Regions from separate parts of the Homo sapiens genome. Here region 2 is linked to region 1. The links come from fine-mapping of genetic effects on gene expression. A gene starts in region 1. The other region holds a variant in brackets. All regions are shown on one strand. Distances are between the middles of the regions. Region 1 holds the start of SLC40A1 (solute carrier family 40 member 1). Region 2 holds the start of ASNSD1 (asparagine synthetase domain containing 1).

Region 1 (8,608 bases):
GTGCTGCTTAGAAACAGTGTAGAGTGTCTGAAAAGGAAGATTGAAGATATGAGAATGTGTTAACAGGAACTCTGCTTAGATGGATGAGGTGTTCTGTGCTGTCTTCTGTGAGGGGCTTGCAATCAAATTGCTGTTGAAAAGGGCATCGAGAATACCAGCTAAAATAACTGAACACTTGGGAAATCCATCCCTGTTTATACAACCTGAGGAAGGCAAGGCTGAGCAGCATCTGGAGAACGTGAAGGGGATACTGTTGTGGTGATACCAAGCATTTGTTTTGCGCTTTAATGAATTCAGACAGAATACAGGAGAACAGACTTGACATTGTAACATGAGAGAGTTAGATTAGACAGCAAAAGTGACGATCCACGGCAAAAGTTAAGAGACTGAAATATTTATTAAATAGAATTTTATGTATTTTCTGGCTGTATATGGAGAAAACTAAACAGTTAACTTAGTTCCATGTTTTAGTTTCCAGTCAGCGTAATGGACAAGACTTCTCTTTTTTTCTTTCTACAGTCTCTTTCTATTTGATTAAGATCTCCTGAGACTACATTTGGCCTACATTTATCTCAATCAATACCATTATTGAAAAATGGCAAACTTTCCTTTTAAGAATATATATATATTTAATCAAGCTAAAATTTGCATAACATAAAATTCACCACTTGAGCCATTTTGGTGACTTTTATTATTTCACATTGTGGCAAAACCATTGCCACTATCTAGATTCAGACCATTTTCATCACCCCAAAGGGAAACTACACACCCATAAAGCAGTCACTACCTATTCTTCCCTCCTCCCAGGCTCTGAAAACAACCAATATGCTCTCTGTCTCTATGGATTTGCCTTAGGAGTATATTTCTTTTGGAATCTTCTGAATTCTGTATTTAATTTTTCCAACTAGAAACTGTAGACTACTGTGTATATGTGTGTGTGTGTGTGTGTGTGTGTGTGTGTGTGTATGAGAGAGAGGAAGCAAGAGAGCACCCCCAATGAGAGCCAGCATTCATAAGAAACTTCGCAAGGTCAAATCTATTTGAAATGTTCAAACAAAATGAAGACCTGGGAGGATATTTATCTTTCAATAGGATGTCTGTAATTTAAAGTAGATGTTGAACTTAAACTTCTCAAGAGCCATTCATTCATATTATAGAAATATAAAACCGTTCTTGAAATTTGCCTGTAACACTGAGAAAGATTTTTGAATGGAAACGTGGCTTTATAGCTCCTAAGTTAATGTAAAAAGGTTCACATCCAACAGAAGCACAGTCCTGGATTGGAGCCCTTCCTGTAATAGTTGGTGATAACCCTATTACTTTTTTTCTTCAGAGCAGTGGAATAGTGACCATTCTTTATTCTGCCTTTGTCCTGGTGAGCACATCTGATATGGCAGAGGAAACTGAGGATGCCTGGCCGGTAAGTGAAAAGACAACTTAAAAATGAAATGATAAAACCGTTTTTATTTCCCAACTATAAACACTTTAAATGAATTTTAAATAGCCATATACATTTTATTCTGGCTGGGATTTTTAAAAAGGTGGTTAACCTAGTTACAAACTTTAAAACATGTTGAAAATGAATTGGCACATGGTCTTTAGGGTATCTACTATTTTTTGTAAACTGACTTAAAACTTGCATGACTTTCTTAGTTAGATTAAATTGATGGGAATGTTGTATGTTCTGTGTTCTCAAAAACATATATATGACTTTTGGAAGAAATCTTAATTTTCAACTGGTCAAATGTTTTCTCAGAAGGAGGAAGAGCCCGAAGGGTCTTGTGATTAAAGCGGTGCTTTGTAACCTAGCATGTCAAAGCCAAAAGAATTCTGTCATTTTGCACTTTCTGAATAGTTTGAGGATTTTTATTCTATTTTCATTTTCAATTTCTTTCCATTTCATAAGCCCCAACTAACATATCTCAACTATTCTCATTAATTAGGATTTAAGATTCCCCTTCCACAGCTCACTCACTGGTTTTAATGTCATGAACCTTGCTTGTTTTCTTTCCAAAGTATCTTTCCTACTTGCTTCACTGCAGTATCCCATTTGTTCTTTATAACATTCTCTCGGTTTTGGCTTCTGGGGACTCCTTGGTGACAATGGAGAACAGAGACTCCATATCACATTTTGAGGTATATGCTGACTTAGCCACTCTTTCCACAAATACTTCTTAAACAGTGTCTACGGGAAGTAATTTTTTTTTTAACCAACCGAACTTTTAAAAAGCCACCTGGAAGTTGGGGACAGCATGACACCCCTTCTTATAATATGTAATAATTAATGTAAAGCACTTGGAGGTCCTTGTTGCTGAGACACACTCTGACAAATGTGCAAACTATCACTATCCTTTGTGCCTTGTTGAGGACCTGTCAAAAAATTCATCTCTAATAAGGGATCGCCATAAAGTGGAGGGGTTTATTTACCAGTTCACTCCTTCACTTTAGTTCACTCATCTGAGTATACTTTGGTTTATTCTCAAGGATGCATGTATAAATGACCCTATTCTCCACGGTTAGCAAACCAAAACCTCTCTAAATTGGGAGAAAGAACTTGAATGTCGTGTGAAAGAAAGGAAAAAAGAGGGCTTGAAAAGGCAAAAAGCAGTGAAAAGCAGTAGTTAAACTGTAACCCCTATCTCTACTCACCAGACCACATCCCAACCGAATCCAGCTGCACCCACCCCGTAGACCTTTGGGGCTCCTGATTGAGAGTGCAGATACAGGGCACATACTCATGCGTGGCTCCCTTCACTACTGGGTGTCAGTCTGGCCTGTGCTCAAGGTGTGGCATCTGGTTGGAGTTTCAATATGTAGGATCCACTACCAGGGTTTTCGTGAGATTAAGAAGGGTAAGGTAACCTACTGGCAAAAGGGGCTGGTATGCCCCAGGGGTTGGTTTGGCACAGCAGGATTAAAACGAAGTCAACCAAGGCTAGAGTCTGGTGTTCTTTAGTCATTCACCTCACCCTCCAGGAGGCCACCGAATGGCTTTATCTGGACAGGGACAGATCCAGGGACACAACTGGGATAACCGGTATTCCTGGTAAGCCTGTCACTGGGGCATTTGGAGGTTAGGTGGGGAAGGGACGCGCGCGTGGGGGCGGGGTGAGAGGGTACAGAGGGAGAAGGAATGATGGTGAAGGGTTTGCTGGGGCTGCAGCATCCTCATTCTGTCTCCAGGACGGATTTGGAGGCCCCAGTTTGGGGATACGGGTAGGTCTGTAACTCGCTGCGGGACTTCACCTTTGCAAGCCTCCGTTTGCTCCTCTCAAGAGGGATGGACTCTGATCTTTGCGCCCCCTTCCTGCCCTTTGATTCTGGTTCTTTGAGGGAAGCCCTGCTATGCAGTCCGGGGAAGGAAAGGCATTCTCTGCTGCAGGCGGGCCGGAATGGGACGGCCAGGAAAGCGGCCTCTGTGGCATGAATTATATTTATTTAGATACCTGTATTAAAAATTATTTTCGTTAAAAAAGGAATCCCCACCCACCAAGCTCGCGCTGGAGCTTTGCACTGCGACCGTCCGGCGGCCGCCCTTTCCCTGAACTGCGGGGTAGCCGGTGCGCAGCGCTTTCTTCCAGCACCTGACGCTTAGTTTCGCGCAGAATCTCCCTACGCCGCCCCGCCGGCTCCACGCGCCTTCCTCCTTTTCCCAGCCCCACGGCCGCCCCCCGAGGTTGCCCTCGCGGCTTCCCGGAGAGCAGGAAAACCCGGGGAGTGGAACGCGTCGAGGCGAAGGTCCCCGCAAGCCGCGCAGGGTGTCTGCGGCCGGTTGGACGCTTGCGCCCGGGGTGGGCGACTCCTCCGGGCAAGGGCGCGGGGACGGCCCGGCGCGCAAGGTTGACGGGAGCTCGTCTCGCGCCGCGGGGACGCCCGGGCGGCCCTGAAGGGGACGGGGCGGCCCCAGTCGGAGGTCGCAGGGAGCTCCGCCCCCGACTCGGTATAAGAGCTGGGCCCGGCCCACGGCGGCGGCGGCGGCGGCGGAGAGAGCTGGCTCAGGGCGTCCGCTAGGCTCGGACGACCTGCTGAGCCTCCCAAACCGCTTCCATAAGGCTTTGCCTTTCCAACTTCAGCTACAGTGTTAGCTAAGTTTGGAAAGAAGGAAAAAAGAAAATCCCTGGGCCCCTTTTCTTTTGTTCTTTGCCAAAGTCGTCGTTGTAGTCTTTTTGCCCAAGGCTGTTGTGTTTTTAGAGGTGCTATCTCCAGTTCCTTGCACTCCTGTTAACAAGCACCTCAGCGAGAGCAGCAGCAGCGATAGCAGCCGCAGAAGAGCCAGCGGGGTCGCCTAGTGTCATGACCAGGGCGGGAGATCACAACCGCCAGAGAGGATGCTGTGGTGAGTGTCGTTGACCGAAAGCATATGGTGGAAACCCAGGTGGGGCTTTGGAGACAAGCAACTCTACACGAGTTCTGGAGGAATGTGGCTCTGCTGTGAACCATAGCTTTGTAAAAAGATCCTTTGACTCATATTTGGTGGACGTTAAGGAAGAAAGGAAATTCAGGGTGTGGGAAAAGGGGTTTGCACACAGGCACGGATGGAGTAGATTGGGCAGTTTGGATTGCCTTGTGTAAAAAAGAAACAAAACAAACAAACCAACCAACCCAAAAAAGAATGCTGAAACAAGAGTTTCTTCACTGTATGTGAAATGTGAAGTTGGGCAGTTATTGACTAGGTCAATAACTGAATTTAGTGAATGGTATTAAGTGAACGAAATACATCGGTTCATAGGTAACTTGATAAAATGTACGTGGTTTGTCCTGCAAAGTAGTTTTTAATAATCATGTTCTAATGAGATCAAATGGATAAGCATTCTGCCCTCAGCTCATTAAGTGACTACCATCGCTTTTTGTCACCCCGCCTGTGTCTTTGCAGGATCCTTGGCCGACTACCTGACCTCTGCAAAATTCCTTCTCTACCTTGGTCATTCTCTCTCTACTTGGGTAAGTGAGAATGCATAGTCTTACAACACAGTTGCGCAATTTTTTATTTCCTTTCGTTCTAGCCAGTTGTATTAAGCCAACTTCCAGTTTTGTCAAGCAGTTAAAGAAATAAATCATCCAAGTACACATGCTTTAATGAAAACGTTATTTACATCGAAGATCTTTCCCCATGAGTGTTAGTTAATGCAACTTAATTATCAGATCATCGTAGTTTATGTAGATAGACAACTATCCAGACAAGATTATCAAGGAAAGGAATATTTGCCTTGTTTTTAAATTTTATGTTGCATTAGTAGCTTTGGTAAATAGACATATCTGCTACAAAAGATGGATGGATGTCTCATATACCTTCTCTTCTTCACATTTTAAAATATTTTGTTTTCTTTTTTTGTTAAAATTTAGTTCCAGCGTGCAGCACCATGAGAATACAATAGAATGGTAGAGTGACTGACTTAAGCTAATAATAACATTCTAAGATTAATTGAAACATAAATGACCCCCAGAACAAATATCTGAGTGACAAAAATTCTGGTCTTTAAAAATGTTATCTATAGTTAGATAAAGTTTGGGGCAGTGGAGGCTATCTTAAAATTAATCATCCAATGAATATCAGCAATGGATTTACAGTTTTCCCTCTGACTTTCTAGGTTGTCCTGGAAAAGACCTAGTGTTTCTGTAGATCTGGGCTCCTAAAACTCTCTCCGAAAAATAATAAACTAGAAGGGTGCTAGATATATGTTCAGTGATGATTAGAATCTTTAACATTAAACAATTATTGTTTAAAAGCAATAAATCTGGCTATATTCTGTCCATGGCTCATATGTATTTAAAAAGAATGGAAAGAATTTTGAGAGTAAATTTTTTGAATGTTATTTTCCTTTTAAATTGGAAACTTATATTGGATCATCCTTAAGACATGGATGGAAACCACTGGAAGAGGAAATCTATACCCAATACCTTTGAGAAATTGTTAAGCTACATTATTGGTTCTCTAAGAAATAGCAGTTTATAGATGACATTTTAGAAAAGCAAGCTCCTATCTTACCAGAGGCTTACACAGGGGTGACTCTGCAAATACATGTAAACAAAGTGGAATTGGTGTGAGTTTGTTTTAATTCCAACAGCTGATGATGCTAAGTAGAAACCTAGTGAAACAACCCTTAATAAATAAAAAGCAATAGTTTGTTCCCCCAGTTTAATTCAGTAAATATTAAGTATTAATAACATGTGATGGGAATAGTATCTGAAATTCTCAGCCTGTGGTCTGGCCTTGCTCTTAGAGGAAGAAGATGCCTCTCTTCCAAGTTCTGATTATGGTTTATGTGACCTTTGGTTAATAGGTTAGGAGGTCAGATTTGCCAGAAAACCAGTGGCACCGTGGTTGTTCCAGGAGGATATTTTGTCATGTTCATTAAAAGTCCCACAAGAAAGGTGACACATGCTTATCCCAACTTTACAGTAAGTCAAGCAAAGGAAGTTCTCATGAGAAAGTTGGATTAAACAAACAGCAGCAACTACAATCATATAAGGTTTAGTGGATTTTTACTCCTTTCCGCTGCAAAGGAGTGCAAAAGAGGAATGTCTCTAACACTAGGTAATTATGCTTTTTATGTTTTTTCTCTTGTGTGGCACTCTGCCTGATTTTGTTACAACAAAACATTTATGTTTCTGTATTATGTGTGTGTGTATATGTATTATATATATATGCATTTTCCGTCCCACCCTGCCAAGTCATGATTTCTTATGCACTGAACGTAGGGGCATTAGAGTAGAAGGTTGCCTCAGGTTAGTTTTGTGTGGGGTTGAATGCCTTTTATTTCTGACTTCATTTCTATCTGCCAATGGATCAATGCATTTTACTCTATATTATCAAAATACAATATAGTGTAAGAAGTGGATCCTGGCTAGGTGCAGTGGCTCATGCCTGTAATCCTAGCACTTTGGGAGGCAGGAGGATTCCTTGAGCCCAGGAGTCTGAGACCAGCCTGGGCAACATAGGGAGACTCTGTCTCTGCAAAAAAAAATTTAAAAATTAGCCAGGTGTCATGAGACACACCTGTAGTCCCAGCTACTGAGAGGCTGAGGTGGAAGAATTGCTTGAACCCAGGAGTTTGAAGCTGCAGTGAGCTGTGATCACACCACTACACTCCAGCCTGGACAACAGAATAAGACCCTGTCTCAAAAAAAAAAAAAAAAAGTGGATACTATTGTCAAGGAGCTTATAATACAATTTAGTATGGGCTTTAAAAAAGATATCTAATAACAAAAAGATGACAGTGTAAGACAGTGAAAAAGAGGGGCCAGTTGCTTATATCTGATAACATGATCTTACAAACTCTCTCCATTTAAACCCCAATATGTCTGCATTTCTCCAGCCCTCGTTTCCCAGAGGCTCACTTTGCTCATGGAGGCCTTTGTTGCCACCAGCTCCATCCTACTTTATATTTCCTCATAGCAGCACGTGCCCTGTGCTAGATTTGCTTTTGGTCTGTGCTCACTGGAATGTGAGCTGCATGAAAACCTTTTGTGCGCTGCTGAAGCTCTAGTGCTTGCAAATGTCGGGTACATAGTAGCCACTTAGTAAGTATTAAGTGGATTGAGGACCATGATCATTCATTGACAGTTATTAGGTTTGCCTTCAGCTCTCAGTCCCGTGGGGGTACATGGACACATAAATAGGTCATCCAAGTTTAGTGAGAATTGGTGGGAAGGCAAGAAATGGAAATAAGGAAGGATGGGCACTTGGTCAATATTTACATAGACTTTACCCAAATATTGGGCTTTTTGTAAACATAGAATCTGTTGCTTCTTAAAGCCTAAGCCCGTTGGAAATTGGGGTAATGTGAGCAATTTCTTTCTTTCCATCAAAGAGGTGGTATGGCATGCAAGAAAAAGCAAGATTCAAAACTTTAATAGCATTTGTCTTGATGTCTTGCTTTAGAGGACTCTAAGACAATTAAAAAATACAATAAGAGTAAGAAAAAAAGAAAGAAACAACAGTATTAGAAAAGTGTTTCTTAACCTGTATGTTAAGAAAGAGAAAACTCTCTGACAGAGGCAACCTATCATTTGGGACATGTGTGTGTTTTTGTCTTTTCCTTGGGAGCTATTCAGAGGAATGGAGATTAGAATAAAGTATCTCCCCTCTCCCTATCCCATTTTATCCTAATCAAATCTAAATTTGCTTTTCAGGTTAAAGATTAAGTAACAGCTCCACCCCCTTGCTGTTGTGACAACTCAAAATTACTCCAGGCATTGCCAAATGATCCCCGGGGAGGTGGGGTGGGGGTAGGAGAAGCAAAGTCATCTCTAGTTGAGAACTACTGGTCTACAGGAAGTTTTTTTGTAAATGATTGCTAACATGCATCAATTTAAGTTTTGAATGTATAAAATTATTATCTTGGCTTCATTAAATTTTTAAAATTATTTGACATACCAGGATAGTATTTGCTTCTAATACATGGATTTTTTCATGAAGATGTTAACAGACTTTGGGAAGAACTAGGAGTAGAAGTATTTCTGTAGGGTCAAATCTATGAGGCCTGGAATTTGGTTTCCTATAGGGATTCCCAGAGATAAGTTATGATGGAACATGGTTGTCCTCCTTAATGTTAATTTCAGAAGTCAGGGATGGAGCCTAAAATCTCATAATAAGGTCCACTGTAGA
Region 2 (8,608 bases), 81 kb before region 1:
ATATATATATATATATATATATACACATATATATATAACTGTTGACTCATCTTCGGAAGCCTAATTTGAAGAAAATCAAACTGCTGCATTAATCTTTAGATATATATTTTAACACTCAGATGAGTATAATTTAGGCACCCCCCAAAAACCCCAAAAAAGAAAAAACTTACTCTTGCTCTCAGACAGCATTTCTGTTCGGTCTGCAAGAAAGAATATATTGCTGTTCTGTTGTTGCCTATATACTTTCTGGAAAACATAATTTAGGCTAATATCAAATTTTGATCTAAAAAGTAGATATTAAAATCCTTAAACCCTATTATCACTAATTCTTGAAAATCTATTCAGTACAATACTTTAGCAAATACAGACAAGCAAAAAGACAAATAAAAGTCACCCACTGCCCAACTACCAGAAATTGCTACTACTGAAATGAAACTATTTTCTCTCCATTTTAACAAAAAAGGTTCTTACTGTACCTGCAGATTTATGCTTTTATCAATGAGCAATATATTGAGAATACTTTTTCTTATCAGTAAGTGTTCTTTTACAAGAACACCAAAATGCCAAAGCAAGCTATGGTGACCAAATTATACCTACTGCTATATAGATATAATATATTACAGTTTATTTGCTCAGCTTCAAATACTAGACATTTAAGGTGTTACCATCTCTTTGCTATTGTAAATCAAGGTTGTGATGATTATCTTTGTAACTAAATCTTTGTGCACTACCATGATTCTCTCCTAAGTATCAACTACTATAAATGGAACTGCTGGGTCAAAGTGTTATAGTTTTGAATTGTTGAGACTTTTTGCCAATTTGCCCTCTAGAGAAAGTCTGTATTAATTCTGCCTCAACTTCTTTTTTTTTTTTTTGAGAAGGAGTCCTGCTCTGTAGCCTAGGCTGGAGTGCAGTGGTGTGCTCAGCTCACTGCAACCTCTGCCTCCCAGGTTCAAGCGATTCTTGTGCCTCGGCCTCCTGAGTAGCTGGGATTACAGGCACACGCCTGGCTAATTTTTGTATGTGCCTCAACTTCTAATATTCCATAAGTGACAATATCAGAAATATCTAACCAGCCAGTTATTACATAATCTTTACAAAGCTTTTAAGAGCTCAAACTCATTTCTTCCTGAATGTTAAAATGCAATTTGACACTATAACCATACACAAAGCAGTAGCTTACTTGTTTGTAACATATTAATGGAAATGGCATTAAATAACCATGTTACACATTTAGGAAAATCTATGTAAAAATTTTTTGGAGGGAGGGGAAGCAATGTATCCTTTTTTGTTCAATAATTATCCACATTCATTTAAAAGAAAAGTTTCTTCTCATCTCAATATAAAGTTCGTTTATATCAAAAGAAAACATCAAATTCAGGTATAAAACATCATTAGTGATTATAGCTCCAAGATACCAAAATACAACTAGTATCATTTGTTGCAAAGGCAATGTGAATGGCATATGATAGAAAAAAGACATCTTCAGCTATGAGATCTATCCATTTAAAAAAAGAATCTAGACACTTGCAATTTTAAAAGATGCTGAAATACTATACATTTTATTAAAGTATGATTAAATCTTATATATACTTCTTATAACTTTAATATATAGTTAACATAAATAAACCTCCCACATATTATTCAGAATTCCTATAATAACTCACCCTATTCTTCTTAAGGTTAGAAAGTTCATCCACCACAATTTTTTGTTCTTTAATCTATTGAAATAAAGAAAAACTCCTTAAGTCAGATGTTTTCAAAGTATGCTCAATGAAAATCCCTTAAGGGGTTGTTTTAAAATTAGAGATGGGATAAGGGGCTATGATGTACTGGTTTTCCAAACGGGCAGTTTGTGAATATACAGATCATTTTCAACAGGAGTCTCTGTGTGGGGGTACAGTTCAGGAAAAGCTGGAGGAGAAAAAACAGTGATTAGACTTGCAAAATGTTAGGTAACCCATTAAGACCAGACAGGGATTTTCGTGTTCATAACCAGCAATCATGCCAAGGACTACAGTTACTAAACAAGGTTTATACCTTTTGTTAAAAATATATGATATACACCAGGCCGGGTGCGGTGGCTCATGCCTGTAATCCCAGCACTTCGGGAGGCCAAGGCGGGCGGATCACCTGAAGTCGGGAGTTCGAGACCAGCCTGACCAACATGCAGACACCCCATCTCTACTAAAAATACAAAATTAGCCAAGCGTAGTGGCACATGCCTGTAATCCCAGCTATTCGGGAGGCTGAGGCAGGAGAACTGCTTGAACCCGGGAGGCGGAGGCTGCAGTGAGCCAAGATTGCACCACTGCACTCTAGCCTGGGCAACAAGAGTGAAACTCCGTCTCAAAAAAATAAATAAATAAATAATTTAAAAAATATATATATATGATATACACCAAAAGGAATTAAGTTGTGATTTAGATTGAAAATTAAGTTGTGATTTAGATTTAAAAAAAAGCAAATTGAATGAGGGGTGGGTTACTTTTTTCAATATTTTCATGATTTTATGTACTAAGTGCTGCAGTCAAACATTCAAATCAAGCAATGCCCTATTTGGGGACAGTAAGACCTATCATGTTCCATCTTGGTATTTTTCCCTCTTTTTATCTCAATGACTAGCATAGAGCTGGCACTGTTGAACTGGGCTTTTTTTTTTTTTTTTTTTTTGAAACAGGGTCTTGCTCTGTTACCCAGGCTGGAGTGCAGTGGTGCGATCACGGCTCACTGCAGCTTTGATCTTCCCGGGCTCAGGCGATTCTCACACCTTAGCCTCCGAGTAGCTGGGACTACAGGCCTGGGCCACCATGCTGGCCTGGGCTTCATTTATTTGTAGGGGAGGGCTCAACTAAGTGAAAACTAAGTTTCTTTTTAACTCTATTTATTTTGTGAACATGACTGATTACATAGTATCACAAGAGCCTCTAAAAGCAGCTTTTATCATATTTGTGCTACCTCACACACACCTCAGGGATCTGTAACCACCAGTATGCGTAAGTGGCTTGCTATGGTGGTAATCAGAATGGGCTGTGTGTCTTTTGAAAATTCACCCCCAATCCCCATGAATGTGCACCTTTCTGTCTCCCCCGTTGGCAGAGCTGTAGTAATGAGGTTGAATTCCAAGGCCAAATTTGTAAACATTCTTTGAGACTTAACATTTATACAGGGCTTTCCCATTTTAGGAATGACAGGTGTACATTTCACTTTACTTCAAAGAAGGTAACTGATACAGAAAGATTAAAGAGACTTGCCCAAGATGTCATTGTAAGTTTGGGACAGAACCAAAGTAGAATCTAGGACATGTAATACCTGAAGGGCTATAACCCTCGCCACCCCCATTTATCTTTAAAGGTTGTTTGTTTATGGCAGTTAAGGCTTATATTATATTGGCTTCCTCTCTCCCCCAGTTTGGTATGAGTGACAACCCAATGCGTGTTTTAGGACCATTGCTCTGGTTAACGGAGAAGCAGCAGCTAACAGGTGGATGAGGAGAGACCGCTTAGGAAGGCCTTGCCGGGGGCAGGGGTCCCGATAGCAGATGACGGTGGCTTATTTGGGGTGGTAAGAGTGTTCACGGTGATAAAGGGACATATTTGAAATGAGCTTCAAAGGTAGAACTGATAGGCTTCCATGATGGGGGTCAAGGATGGACCCCGGGTTGCTGGCATGGTTAACTGGATGGAGAATATCTTTGATGGAACAGATTTGGGGTGGGCGGTATTTCCAAAAGTTTAAAAAGACTAGGGAGGAAAACACCCAACCAAAACTCCGCCCCACTGTCACCTGGGTCCAGTCTCGGGACAAATTTCAAGATCTCCCTTTTCGCAACTGTTTTCAGAAAATAAAAGGACTAACTGTGGCTGTCAAGTGCTATGAATAAAAAGAGCAAAGTAGCAGGGCAAAGCCGAGGCCCAGGCAGGCCCCACGCTGCCCGCTGCGGACCACCTTCAGGGTCCAGTGGCGCCCGGTCCCGAGTCCAGGAGCCTTTTCGTCGCGTCTCACACTCACCTTGCTGCTTAGATCCTCCTTGTGTGGGGTCGAATTGTCGGTGGGGATCAGCACAGAGCTGTCCTCTGGTCGCGTCCCTCGGCTGGGCATTTCCACCGAGCGCAAGACACGCGGGATGGCTCAGCCCTGAAGGAGCCTACGGCATTAGCCACAGCGCATGCGCGCTTCCAGCCGCGCTCACCCTTTCTTTTCCCGCGAGTCTTACCAATAGCGTCTGCGCGCTCACTTGAACGCATGCGCAGGCCGGGTCTGGCCTGGGGAGGAGTTTCGCGCCTGCGCATGGCTGCTTAGGGAGCGAGTAAA[CAG/G]TCTGGTTGCAAAATCTGAGGTTCCTGTACTGGCCTCTTGTGGTTGAGATGCAGAAACGCTCAGGTGGTTTCTTCATGACCTCTTATCTAGTATACTACGAGTTCTGTGCGCCCTCCAGTGGTAAATATGAAGAATAGTCGTGCAATAGAAACAGCGCTTAATATGATATTTATTATCTAGGGAAAGATGAAGCTAAGGAACAGATTTAAGAGATACCGTGTTGGCAAAAGAACTGTACAGACTTGGTAAAGTTTTGGTTAACTCGTGGTTAGGGTTGCCGGATAAAATACAGTATGAACTTCAGATGAATTAATAGTTTTTTAGTGCATCTATGTCCCGTGCAATATTTGCAATATCTCATTTCTGTGGAAAAAATGACTAAAACTTGGAAATAGGCAAAAGAGATTTATTTACTGGATGCTCTTTCAGTGCTGCTCTGGACTTGACTTTATTATATTGACTGGGCTGTTTTACAATTCTGTAGGGGCAAAGGTTAACTTTGGTAGAGATTTTGGTTTGGTAGAGATGCAAATAATTTTTTGTTGTACCAGATACCAACACAGGTTATGATTTATTGTTCTGCAACACATTAGTCAGTTTTGTATCTAACCCTGCATTCTGTCCTAACATTTCTTTATTAACATATGCCTAGCTTCTCTAATATTCTGTATTGGTTTTAAAGTCATCGGTTCCCTCACTAACCAATGAGTTGAATAAAAGTTTGACATGTATATATTTTATGTTCACATTAGAGACATGATTTTAGGTTTTTGATAATTATACTATATTATTGGAAATCTTAAGTTTCCACAGAGATGCCCAACTGGATTTATGTGATGAATCAAACTATCTGGCGAAAGAAATGTATACATCATGGGTTGTTTAAGGCCAGGCATGTTTTTTATTTGCTCTTACAGAAAACCCAAGTGGTTATATATTTTTCCTTTATAATTGATTTTTAAAGATTGTGTTTTCATTTCTGATTTGTACATTCCTGATAAGTTATTCAGGTATAACTTATACATTACTGATACATTGATAGCAGCAATGATTGGGAGTTTGGTTTTGTGGTCTAACCATTTGGTGGTATCTGTTGGATGATGGACGTCTAGTCTCATTGGTAGAGAGGTAGATAGGTGCAGTGGCTCAAACCTGTAATCGCAACCACTCGGGGCTGAGGTGGGAGGATTACTTGAGGCCAGGGGTTCAAATAAATAAATAAGAGAGGTGACAGAGAAGCGAGTTTGTAAGTCTTTTTGTTTATTGTTTGTGAGCTCAAATTAATTAATTACTTTTGTGTCCACTGAGAGGGAAGGAGGACAGCTATTTGAGATGTGGGCTAGTAAGGTTTTGTTTGTTTGTTTTAACATAAAGGCCGCTCAAGCAGAAGAACTGGTGAATTTTTGTGGTTTTGTGTTTACTTTTGACCTGAGATTGAAGTTGTAAGACAGAAGCAATAACCTCTTTATGTGTCTGTGTGTCTGTAACTTAGAACAGGCTTTATGTCTCCCTTTGTAAATATGAAATATTTCCCTACTTCTGGAGTGTATTAATAAATCCCACTATAGTATCTCTAATTAAAGGGCCTCTGTTCTGACTAGTTTATAGAGAAAAATAAGCACTGGTATAATCCCAATATTTTTAAAAGCCCAGAATTTCCAATACTTTAAATGTGCCAGATTTTTAAGGAAAAAAGTTCTTACAAAACTGCTAGCTTAGAAACATTTTAAGAATCCAAGTTTAGGAAAAAGAGAGCTCCAAAGTGAAGTATCACTTCACTTTGTTGTTGTTGTTATTTTGAGACACAGTCTTTCTCTGTTGCCCTGGCTGGAGTGCAGTGGTGCGATCTCTGCTCACTGCAACCTCTGCCTTCTGGATTCAAGCTATTCTCCTGCCTCAGCTTCCCAAGTACCTGGGATTACAAGTGTGTGCCACCATGCCCGGCTGATTTTTGTATTTTTAGTAGAGATGGGGTTTCAGTATGTTGGCCAGGCTGGTCTCAAAGTCCTGGCTTCCAGCTATCTGCCCGCCTCAGCCTTCCAAAATGCTGGGGTTATAGGTGTGCGCTGCCAGGACTGGCTTCCACTTTGTTTAGAGGTAATAGTGAGGCTTATCTGTAAAGCTGATGAGACTGAGCATCCTAGCCTATTGGTCTTCTTTGTACCCCACCTTCTATTATAGTGTCTGGCAGAGTGGGAGCTCTGGTTAAAGTTTGAATTGGTTCTGACTCACAATCATGTCCACATCGAGTAGCCGGAAACACCCAACACCGCTGATTGGTCTACAGCTGTTCACCCCGTTTTGGGAAGTGGGCTGTTGCTTACGGCTCTGCCAGGTTCTGATGTTTTTGTTTATTCACAAGGGCTGCCCAAGACAACATAGTACTAAACAAAATAGTACTAAACAAAGTGGTGATAATAATTTTAGTATGGTGCTAAACTGTCTTAAAAGTGCTTTCACACTTTGTCTTATTTAAAAAATATTTATCTATTTGCTTCTATTTCCTCCTTCAGCTGCTCTAACTTCTGCATTGCTTGAAGTCAGCTTTGGGGTTAGCTAGTACCATGTGTCATGCCTAACTGGCTCAGGACTGCCCATCTGCAGCCCACCATACAACTGGAAACTATGTCTTCTCTTCCAGTGATTCTCAACAGAGCTAGGGGTTTCCCTAGCTGATGCTTGAAAAAATGTTTGGAGGTACTGTTGGTTGTCACAGTGATTGGATGGTTCTGTTAACTCTGATGGGTAGGACAGACTGGAAGTCATTTGAAAGGAGACAGACTCAACTACAGACTCTTCTAAGAGGCGTAGACTAGCAGACCAAAGGGAAATCTCAGCAAGTAGACAGTGCTGGTAATTGCCGGTGGGGGGAGGGGGTTGGAGAGGGGGAAGTAAGGTAGGCTGTAGGACCAAGGGGGTGAAGTCAAAGGAGAGGTAATATCACAGTCTAAATAGGTGATTTATATCAATAATTCTGCCAGAAGGTGACAGGGCCTGAGATATTGGACTGATGTTTTCCACAAGGCTCTAGGATCTGGGAAAGGAACTACTGGATCCTTACCATAAACTCTTTGCAGGGAGAACGCAGGGAGAATGCTTTGTCGCCCTAGTAACAAAGCACATCAGGCTGGTCTTGGTCTCTCAAGGGAAATGGCAGAGTTTCCAAGTACTGGTCTAGAGATTAGTAAATCCTTTTTACTTGAGATAAGGCTGGTTCTCAAGCTTTGCTTCAAAGCTGTGGAATGCGGACATCAGGCCTCCCTGACGCTTGCAGCCAACTTCACTTTGGAGCTCTTGTGCAGGGCTGAAACAGGATGTGGTGAGTGTGGTAGGGTGCAAATTTGAAGATGCACTGACTCTCAGGTCCTGCAGTAAGTGCTCTTTAAATTTTCTGCCCAGGTGCCTCACATGCCTCATCTAAGCATATTCGTCTTCTTTCCAATCCACTGCTCTCCTGCCAGTTGGATTTGAAAATTTCATTGTTGGTAGTTCTGTTTTACAATCTAGAGGTCAGTGTGGTTTGTGAATGTCACCAATGAAAGATGTTTTATATGCTGCCCATGCCTGTTGTATCTTCACATAGTCTGACAGCTATAAAGAAGGTTAATCGAAATTATCTTGGCTTCTTCTAGAACTATTCCATATGAGTGCCACTGTCCACCTCTTTCCCAAAGATTCAAATATGGATGCAAGGCAAAGAAAATATTTGATTGGTTAAAGTGGACCAGTAGCCTTATTTGGATCATTCCATTGGAAAATCCCTAGTTAGAGGTTAGTTGTTGGTTTCTGATTGGTTAAGCTAAGTTCTGTTTACCTAGAATATAACCTTTTAGCTTTTGGTTTGTTTAGGTAGGCACTCAGCTCTAGAGCTGCTTCAGTGTAATGGCCTTCCGATTTATTATTTTAATACTTCCTTTCTATGTTTTGGAAGAGTTTTTGTAGAATTAATGTTATTTCTTCTATTAATATTATATAGAATTTTCCAGTGAATTTATCTGTGCCTAAAGTTTTCTTTGTTCAATGGTTTATAAAAACTATTATTTTTCTTTTTTCTTTTTTTTATACTTTAAGTTCTGGGGTATATGTGCAGAACGTGCAGTTTTGTTACATAGGTATACATGTGCCATGGTGGTTTGCTGCACCCATCAACCCATCACCTCCATTAGGTATTTATCCTAATGTTATCCTTCCCCCATCGCCAACCCTCAGACAGGCCCTGGCGTGTGATGTTCCCCTCCCTGTGTCCATGTGTTCTCATTGTTCAACTCCTGCTTATGAGTGAGAACATGCA

The links. PIP is the estimated chance that this variant, and not a neighbour inherited with it, causes the effect.
Region 2: its variant is fine-mapped to the expression of SLC40A1 in whole blood (TOPMed, PIP above 0.99).

What each region holds. Positions count from the first base shown.
Region 1 is chr2:189,576,146-189,584,753 of GRCh38, reverse strand. It overlaps SLC40A1 (solute carrier family 40 member 1), which reads left to right and starts at 3,968. Exons shown (of 8, transcript NM_014585.6): 1 at 3,968-4,336; 2 at 4,874-4,941. The coding sequence starts at 4,294. RefSeq lists silencers at 3,715-3,884, 3,955-4,014.
Region 2 is chr2:189,657,014-189,665,621 of GRCh38, reverse strand. ASNSD1 (asparagine synthetase domain containing 1) reads right to left here and starts at 4,163. Exons shown (of 6, transcript NM_019048.4): 1 at 4,012-4,163; 2 at 1,668-1,721; 3 at 171-246. ASDURF (ASNSD1 upstream open reading frame) reads right to left here and starts at 4,163. Exons shown (of 4, transcript NM_001353493.2): 1 at 4,012-4,163; 2 at 1,668-1,721; 3 at 171-246. The coding sequence starts at 4,101. RefSeq lists an enhancer at 3,916-4,105. The variant CAG/G (reference allele first, on the strand shown) is at 4,315.